Regions from separate parts of the Homo sapiens genome. Here region 2 is linked to region 1. The links come from fine-mapping of genetic effects on gene expression. A gene starts in region 1. The other region holds a variant in brackets. All regions are shown on one strand. Distances are from middle to middle.

The links. PIP is the estimated chance that this variant, and not a neighbour inherited with it, causes the effect. A credible set is the group of variants that fine-mapping cannot tell apart.
Region 2: its variant is the best candidate, but not a certain one, in a credible set for the expression of LINC02777 in whole blood (TOPMed, PIP 0.80).

What each region holds. Positions count from the first base shown.
Region 1 is chr1:58,902,610-58,906,945 of GRCh38, forward strand. LINC02777 (long intergenic non-protein coding RNA 2777) reads right to left here and starts at 1,529. Exons shown (of 5, transcript NR_183656.1): 1 at 959-1,529. RefSeq lists silencers at 923-1,312, 1,373-1,622.
Region 2 is chr1:58,892,149-58,896,538 of GRCh38, forward strand. The region is part of intron 1 of JUN-DT (JUN divergent transcript); the gene reads left to right. LINC02777 (long intergenic non-protein coding RNA 2777) reads right to left here. Exons shown (of 5, transcript NR_183656.1): 3 at 3,697-3,861. Among named protein-coding and RNA genes, the nearest start is that of LINC02777, 9.8 kb to the right of the region's middle. The variant G/A (reference allele first, on the strand shown) is at 2,583.

The DNA of each region.
Region 1 (4,336 bases):
CAAAGGATTCTTGTGCCTCAGCCACCTGAATAGCTGAGATTACAGGAGTGCGCCACCACGCTCGGCTAATTTTTGTATTTTTAGTAGAGATGGGGTTTCACCATGTTGGTCAGGCTGGTCTTGAACTCATGGACTCTTCTCTATCACAATATATTCTAAGGCAGGCAGCGATCTGCCTGCCTCGGCCTCCCAAAGTGTTGGGATTACCGATGTGAGCCACCGTGCCAGGCTTCTATTTGCTTTTGCTTTTGATACACCCATATCTGCTCATTGTAGGAATATTGGGTGCCTTCAGCTCAGCTGGATTCTCTTGGCTTCAGTGTCAGTATTTGAATTCTTGTTCATTTTCTGCTTTCCCTCCCCAGACTGGTAAGTCCATGAGGACAGAGTCCTTGTCTATCCGCCAGACCACCAGTGTCCAGCACAGTGCCTGGCACACAGTAGGTATTCAATAATTGTTTAATGAACTCTGGGGCTTTGATTAATAATTTAGTTAGAGAGTAAATTAATTGTGAGTTAAATCTAGTTTGGTCAACAACATACTTTACACTGTGCAGTCAGTGGGGCAGGAGGGAATCACAGAAGGGTCTTTGAAGATGAAAAGTGCAGGGACTATTGGCCTAGATCAGTGGTTTACACATGAAGCTGTACTTTTAGACGAGCTTGCCTTCCGGGATTTCGATCCCTGGTCTGAGGTGCTGTTTGAGCTTCCCAGGTGATTCTGAAGTCACCAGATCGGTATTGAGGGATGCCAAATTTGGGGGACTTCCTGTTCTAACGTATTTCTTTTTGTCCCCCGAACTCATTCAACTTGTGCCTGAACGGTCTCAGCAATGGGAGCTCATTATTTCACAAGGCGAGCTGCCCAACCCAGCGTAACCACAACGACAACAATCACAGTGACACCATGTAGGGACCATACATTGAGCATTTCTTAGGTGTCAGGTACCGTACATACATGCTGCTCACTCCAAAGGCGAGGTGGGTAGTACTTGTCTGCATATGACAGCTAAAGAAACTGCAACTCCGACGTTGGTGGCGCTGGGAGTCTCAGTGGCGGCGGGGCGGGGCAGGGCCGGGACCGAGGCCACGTCCCGCCCGCCGCCCGGCTTCCCGCCCATGGGCCTCGGCAGTGCCCGCGGGAGGAGCGGGTGGAGGGAGCCGCTCGCCACGTCAGCGCACGCCCGCCCCGGCGCTCCGCCCGGCCCTCCTGGGCCTCCCCATAGAAGGTTAACCCGGGCCGGATCCCACGAGGACTGGTGGGGGCCGGGCGGCCCGTGATTTCAGTTTCCGAAGAGTCCGGCCCTGCGCAAAGGCGGGCAGGGAGGAGGAGTTCGGGAAGCCTTCCCGACAGTCTGTAGATGAAATGAACGCGCCCCGCCTGAGCGCCACTCGGGGAGCGCGCCGAGCCAGTGCAGCACCGCGGCCTCCCGGCCCGCCAGGCTGAGGGTTTCCGCGGGCCCTGACCCTGCTGGCCCCCACCGGGCCAGTGAAAGCAGCAGGCTTTATGCGGCTGTCGGGCTCGGGGCGAGGAGCCGGCTCCACCCTCCCAGTCTGGGCCCATCCTCCGGCCTCGGCCAGCCCCTTCCCTCCCTCTCTTTGGCGTTCGCGTTCCCTCGGCCTAGCAGACCTCTTAGAATGTTTGTTTTCCTTCTGAGAAAGAGCGGAGGGACGTGGCCAAGACCAACATGAACTGCAAACACGGGACATCCTCTGTGTGGGGGGACATTTTTCTGGGACCAACAGACCTGGGTCTGAATACCCATCCTGCCGCTTCCTCGCTGGGTGACCTTTGTATATCTTTCTCCATCTCTCTCAGCCTCATTATCCTCATCTGTAAAATGGGGATAATGACGCCTTACCTATCTTTAAGATACATTCTGAGGATTAGATTGGATAAATACGGATCATACATTTTAAGCACTTAGTGCTGTCAATGGCAATTAACATTATTATTCATTATATTGTTATTATGAATGACTGATAATGACACTCAAGATTATTAATGCTACTGTGTCAAAAATATGCTCAATTAAATTTATTTTTAGTGAGTGAAATAGTTTTATGAAAGGTAAATAAAGAGGAATAATACTGGGTCGGGAAGTATATACACGTTATCTCATTTAATATTCAAACAGCTTCAGAAGGTGGGTGTTATCATCCCCATTCTGCAGATGAGAAAGTTGAGGCTCTTGGAGGTTCATTAACTTGCCCACCTCACACACTTCAAGCCTAATGTCCTGCCCTCCCTCTCTCACTGACTTCCTTGACTGCATCCCTTAAGCTCCAGTCCCTTTCTACCTGCCTGCCTCAGCAAAGACTCGTCCATCTGCAGAGAAACCTGGAGGAAAGTGAGTCAGCTCTGGAAACTGGATAAAGCTCACCTCCTCCAGGCAGCTTTCCTGATTCTCTCCCTCCTCCCCCTGTAAAATTAATCCTTCCTTCCTTTCTTCTCTTGGTGCCCATAGTATGAGGTTGCACACACTTATTGCAGGTTGTGTCTCCCACCTGGGGAGTATGCCTGTCTAAGGCAGACGCCACATACTTTTTCACTCTTGAAGGGTCAATATGGTGTTGTGGTTAAGGGCACAGGCTTAGGAGCCCAACTGTCCAGTTTCAGATCTTGGCTTTACTACCTACTGGTTGTGAGCCTTAACCAAGTGACTTAACCCCTTTCAGCCTCACTGTCCTTATCTACAACATGGAGATTGACAATAAGATCAGCCTTGTGGGGTTGCTATAAGGATTGAATGAGTTAAGATATAGAAAGCAATTTGAACCTCTAAGTAATCAGATGTTCACTGAATGAAGACGGAATCGTGAAGGTCTTGAATGTTGCTTACTAAGATAGTGAGATAGAAAGCATGTTGCAGAGTTAAGAGCAGGAGTAGGTATCAGAGACCTAGGTTCTCATCCTGGCTCTGCCTTTAACTTTATGTTTGGATTGGGCCTGTTCCTCCCTCTGTCTGAATCTGTTTCCCCTTCTGCAAAATGATAAGTTTGGCTCCCGCTGCTAGATGACTTCAAAGGGTAATATTCAGTGTATTAATTCTGTGCCTCTAGGACTTTGCTTGTGTAATGTTCCCAGTTAGCGGTCACACTAAAAAATAAATGACTGGTTTGCCCCTGGAAGCATGAAGCTCAACCACTGGCTACCATGAACTCAGAGGTAGAGGATTGTACCAGTTTTGATAATTGCCAGCTTTTTCTGGGCAGGTCTTAGTGCCTGGCATTGGGCCAAGTGCCATCATTGTCTTGTTTAGTATTCTCAAGAACCCTGTAAAGAAGTCACTACTATGATCCCCTTTCTATAGCTGAGGAAACAGAGGCTAGAGGTTAACAAGCTTGTAACTAGTTGGGTGGGATGTAGGATCATCACTTGTCAGGCTTTGGCTCCCAAGGCCTGCAAGAATCCTCTCTAACACATGCCTGTTTCGATACCTCTGGGGACAAAGAACCTATTGTCTTTCAAGCCTGTTCATTATTAAGAATCCTGAACAGCCAAAAAGGGTACAGCTGCCTTTTTACGTGAGTTTCATTCATGACTTTGCACTTGGGCTCCAGGAAGACATGATTTGTATTAAGGGTTAAGAAAAGGGAGAATATGAATTCCACCAAGGGAGGGTCTCAGGAGTAGTTTACAATTGGGTGGCCAGAGGACAGAAGCCTCTGCTCCTACTTTTTTGGGCCTCACCCCCAGCCCCCACTGATGGGGTCCTGCCTGGGGACAGAGCTGTGGGATGCTAAGGAATTTCAGTACAGCCTTGATTGGGAGTGGGCTGAACTCAAAGCATCAGAAATGTGCATCTATAATTCCCAGTCAATTGAGATACATTTCCTTGGAGGTAGGGTTTGGAGTGTGGTGGAGGCAGCGAACACATTAGCAAAAAGTTAGGCTAAATCAGACCTGCAAAACTGGAGGGAGAAATTGGCTCCAGGTTTTATTCAGTTTACTGTCTTTAAAAACAAACAAACAAACAATGAAAAACCACAAATATCCTGCTCAAATAGCTCCCGAGGCTCACCTTTCCCAACAGGATGAAGTCCGGACTCCTTGGGGTGGCATTCAAGACCTTCCACAATCTAGTACTAACTCACCTTTTTCACGTTTTCTCCTACCACATTCCCAGCTCCACTCCCAGCCAGAGAATCTCGCATAGTCCCCTGAATACTCTAAGCTTGCTCTTGCTTCCATGCCTTTGCACATGCTATTCCTCCTGCCCCATAGCACACCACCACAGATGTCACATCTAGATGAAAACATCAATCCTGTGTTAAAATGCATTGGTTTTCCTCTCCCACTCCTGAATAGTCCCAGCTAAGAGAGAACCTTTGC
Region 2 (4,390 bases), 10 kb before region 1:
GCTGGGAAGCCCTTGGACAGTCTGATGGTGCCCTTGGGCCTCTTCTCAGAATAACATTTTAAAATGCATAAAATTAAGCACATACAATGGTAAAGAAAGCAATTATTTTTCAAAAGTTAACAAAATACAGAAAAAAATAAATTGGTAATAATGTATGTGGTTTCATATTTGTACACTGAGTAACCAGATCTATAGGTCTATTAACTATTTTATTTTCAAAATATTGATAATCATAGATACAATTTTTAGATAATCTGTAACAACTGTAAAGTGGTATGAACATAACTATGATTTCTATTAGTAATAAATTACAGGAACCATTGATATCACTGTGATTTGAGCCTACATTTGTAATTGAAGGAAATGTTAAATTAATTTTATGTACAAGTTAGTGAACATTTCTTCCCCCATACAGATTCACAAAGCTCCTGAATTCCAGCCCTAAGAACCTTGATACTAGAGATATATGTGCTGTCAGGCTCTGAGAGCACAGAGGAGGGGTCAGAAAAACCTTTCTAGAGGAGGTGATTCCTTAGCTGGGTTCTGAAGAAGGAGTAGGAGTTAGCCAGAAAGATAGGGGTGGAGGGAATTCCAGGTAAAAGGAAGAGCAACAGACAGCATTAAACTGTACGCCTTATTTGGGGGAACTGATAGTTAGTGTGGTAATAACTCAGGGTATGTGTAGGTTTTGTTGGGAAATTAAGCAGGAGAGGAAGACAATGGGATCAGCTTATGGAAGTTCTGAGTCCTAAGCTACAGAATTGGTCCCAGAGTTGATGGGGTGTCCTTGAAGGACTTAAGCAGAAAAGGAACACAGTCAGAAAGATTATTTTGGCAACTATGAGGTGGATGGATTGGAAGGTGGGAGAAACTAGAGGCAAGGAGATGGGTTAGAAAACTGTTCTAATTAGTCTAGGCCAGAAGAGCTATGTGTCCCAGACAATGGCCATAGGGGTAGAGAAGAGGAAATGGATACTAGAGACCCACAAGATGGTAGAATCTGCACGAAAATTGGCAGTTGATGGGGATGGGGCAGTTGGGGAGAAGAAATGATCAAAGCAAAAATGTGACTAATTAACAGAGAAGCTGTGTTCAGGGCAGTAGCGGCCACGAACTGCAAACCTGTCCTGCTCGTTCACACCTTTGTGCCTTTGCGAAGCTCCATCTCTCTTCCTGGGATTCCCTCTCCTCCCCTGTTGCTTGCTCTTTCCTAACTCCCAGGTCACCTCACCAACTTCTATCTTGCTGGGAGGCTTTCTGGAGGTGGCAGGTTATCTCGAAGCTGCAGCCTAAACACAAGCCCTTGTCTGACTCTGTGTAGACACCCGAGATTCCCGCCTTGAGCAGAGGCCCCATGGCCCCCTTTGCATCCTTGATATCAGGCTTGTTCTCCTAGGGAACCAAGGCAGATTCAGCCTGGCAGCTGGCAAGTCATGGAGCACTGCCTGTCCATCTGCGAGCTAACAACAGTCGCGCTGGAAGTCAACAAGGGAAATGGAAAGGGAGAGACCCAGCCTCCACAGGGGCTCACGCCCTGGGACCTGTGCCAGTGTGAACAAGGTTTTCCGGGTGAGGATTTCCCCTCGTAGAATGGGAATAGCAGCTGAAGGCGAGCTAAAGAGAACTGCTTGTGCTTTCCTTGTAACATTGTCTTATTTATTAAAGCTTTGTAACCACCCTTTGGTGGTTGTGTGTGTGTGTTCTCATGCACACACACACACACCTTCTTTCTGATTACATGCAAAGAAAATATGTCCAGAGTGGCTAAAGGACTTATCTAAGGTCACTCAGGCAGCAAGGCACAGGTGAGTATAGAAGTGGCTTGGGAATGAACACATGCCTCTTAGAACCCTTGAGATTTGTAAAGTCAGGGGTGGCTTGGAAGAAAAGATTTGGGATTAAAGAGGCTCGATGGGGCCAGAAGAATTGTCACTGTTTTCCTCTGGGTCTGCCTGCTGCTTTTCTCTCCATTCTCTAGCCCAGCCTCCATATCTTCCTAGAGGCAGTCCTTGCTGCAGAATGCGAGGGGCAATGGCTTCCAGTGGTGGCTGCTGGCATGATTTGGCCCATGCTGGGTCTCCAGCCTCCTCTCCTGACATCCTTCCTTGCCAGTACTCCATACTCAAGCCAGCTATGTTAGCTGGGTGGCCCCGTTACTCATTTGGCCACTTGTGCCATTAAATGTGCTGCTTTTTGGCCGGGTGCAGTGGCTCACACCTATAATCCCAGCACTTTGGGAGGCCAAGGTGGGCGGATCACCTGTGGTCAGGAGTTCAAGACCAACCTGGCTAACGTGGTGAAGCGCTGTTTCTACTAAAAATACAAAAAATAGCTTGACGTGGTGGCAGGCAGCTGTAATCCCAGCTATTCGGGAGGCTGAGGCAGGAGAATCACTTGAACCTGGGAGGTAAAGGTTGAAGTGAGCCAAGATCATGCCACTGCACTCCAGCCTGGGTGATGCAGTGAGACTCCGTCTCAAAAAAGAACAACAACAGCAACAAAAACAAACAAACAAACTAACAAACAAACAAACAAAAAAGCGCTGCTTCTCTTTCCTGGTGGGCAGGGGATAGAGAGAAACA[G/A]GAGGAACCTCTTTTCTAAAACACTTTTTCTCACGCCTGTAATCCCAGCACTTTGGGAGCCTGAGGCGGGCGGATCACGAGGTCAGGAGTTCGAGACCAGCCTGGCCAACATAGTGAAACCCCGTCTCTACTAAAAATACAAAAAATTAGCCAGGCGTGGTGGTGGGTGCCTGTAATCCCAGCTACTCGGGAGGCAGAGGCAGAGGAACTGCTTGAACCCAGGAGGTGGAGGTTGCAGTGAGCCGAGATCATGCCATTGCACTCCAGTCTGGGCGACAAGAGTGAAACTTCGTCAAAAAGAAAACAAAAAACAAAAAACAAAAAACCACATTCTCCCAAAGTGGCACCTGCTAGTTGAAGTTAAGGTAATATGTTGTTACAATAGTTGTTGGGGACACAGTGAAATGACTCTAGAAACAGAGCGTGCATGCAAGACCTTGAGACAGTAAAGAAGGTGGCCAGAAGTGACACCTTGTTAATATGCAACCCAACCAACCAAGTGTGCTTGCCTGGCCCAGGCCAGCAGGCTAACTAGCTCTGTGCAAGCCCCTGGCTATGCCCCTTAGGTGCTGGCCCAGTGCCAGATGTTCTGGTGGCCTCATATGCCAGAGGCCACCAGAACATCTTTGTGGAAGGACTGAGAGGGGAGGCGTGAAGCCACAGAGAGGAGCCAATCTCTCTCCCCTTGGCTGGGACTCTCCCCTTAGGAATATAAGCAGACTGTCACTTGGGTCAAAAGCACAGCTGTAGGGAAGAACAGGAGGAGAGAATGGGTATGAGGAAGAGGAGGAGGAGGAGTGGAGGAGGAGGAAGGAAAAAGGGCTGGGAAGGGAAGAGGGAAATTGGAGGGGCAGGTGGAGGAGGCAGTGAGGAGAAGAATACTTGGTGAGAGTTTAGCCACCTCAAATAACAATCTTGCAGTCTCTTGCAGCTGCTAGAGAAGTCCAGTCTGCCCACAGGGCAGAGGAGGAAGGGTACTTCCTCTGAGGAGGCTGGAGGCCTTGTAATCTCTGTACCCACATCCGGAGAAGCTTGGACGGGGTGGGGCTGCCTGGGTCCAGCTTCCCACCCAACCCTGCAAGCTTGGGATCGGACCCTGGGAAGCCTGGCTTACCTGGGCCAGGTCCAGCTGCACTGGGTCTGGATGTCGTATCTCAGGAGCCAGTGGGCTTGGGGTGAAGATGGACAGCCTTTTCTAGAAGATACAGACTGTGACTCAGAGAAAGGCATTCTGATGTCTTCTGCGAGACTCCTGAATCACAGCAGGATGGGCACAGGGCTGGGGGAGAAGAAATAAATACTTAATTATAAAAATTGCATAGTTGGAGAGAGCTTTTGTAGTCTTAGAGGTGAAAGAACTCTGAGCTACAAGAATAAAGAAGAGCATCTTTTGCTGGGTGCTTACTTTGTGCTAGACACTGTAAAGTGCTAAAGATAAGGAAAGTATCCTTCATGGCTGCATGCGTTGCATGCCCACCACGTGCCAGGGGCTTAACACCACCACCCTATTTAATATCCACCACTAGCCCCAGGAAGCAGGCCTAAGTACTCTCATTTCATCACTGAGGAGCCTGAGACGTTCAGTCATTGATTGGACAGCCCTCACCATTCAAGCCCTCCTTGGTTTACAGCAGCAGAAAGAGAGGCTCTGAAGGGTAAGTGACTTGTCACAGTTGAGAGCAACTGGCCTGTGGTAAGAGTTGGAGGCAGAACTGAGCTCCTGGCCCAGGCCTGTGGCCTCTTCATTCCCCCAAGCCACCCTCTCCAGTTGTCAGGCCTTCACTTTCAGGAAGTCCGGGACAATGAGG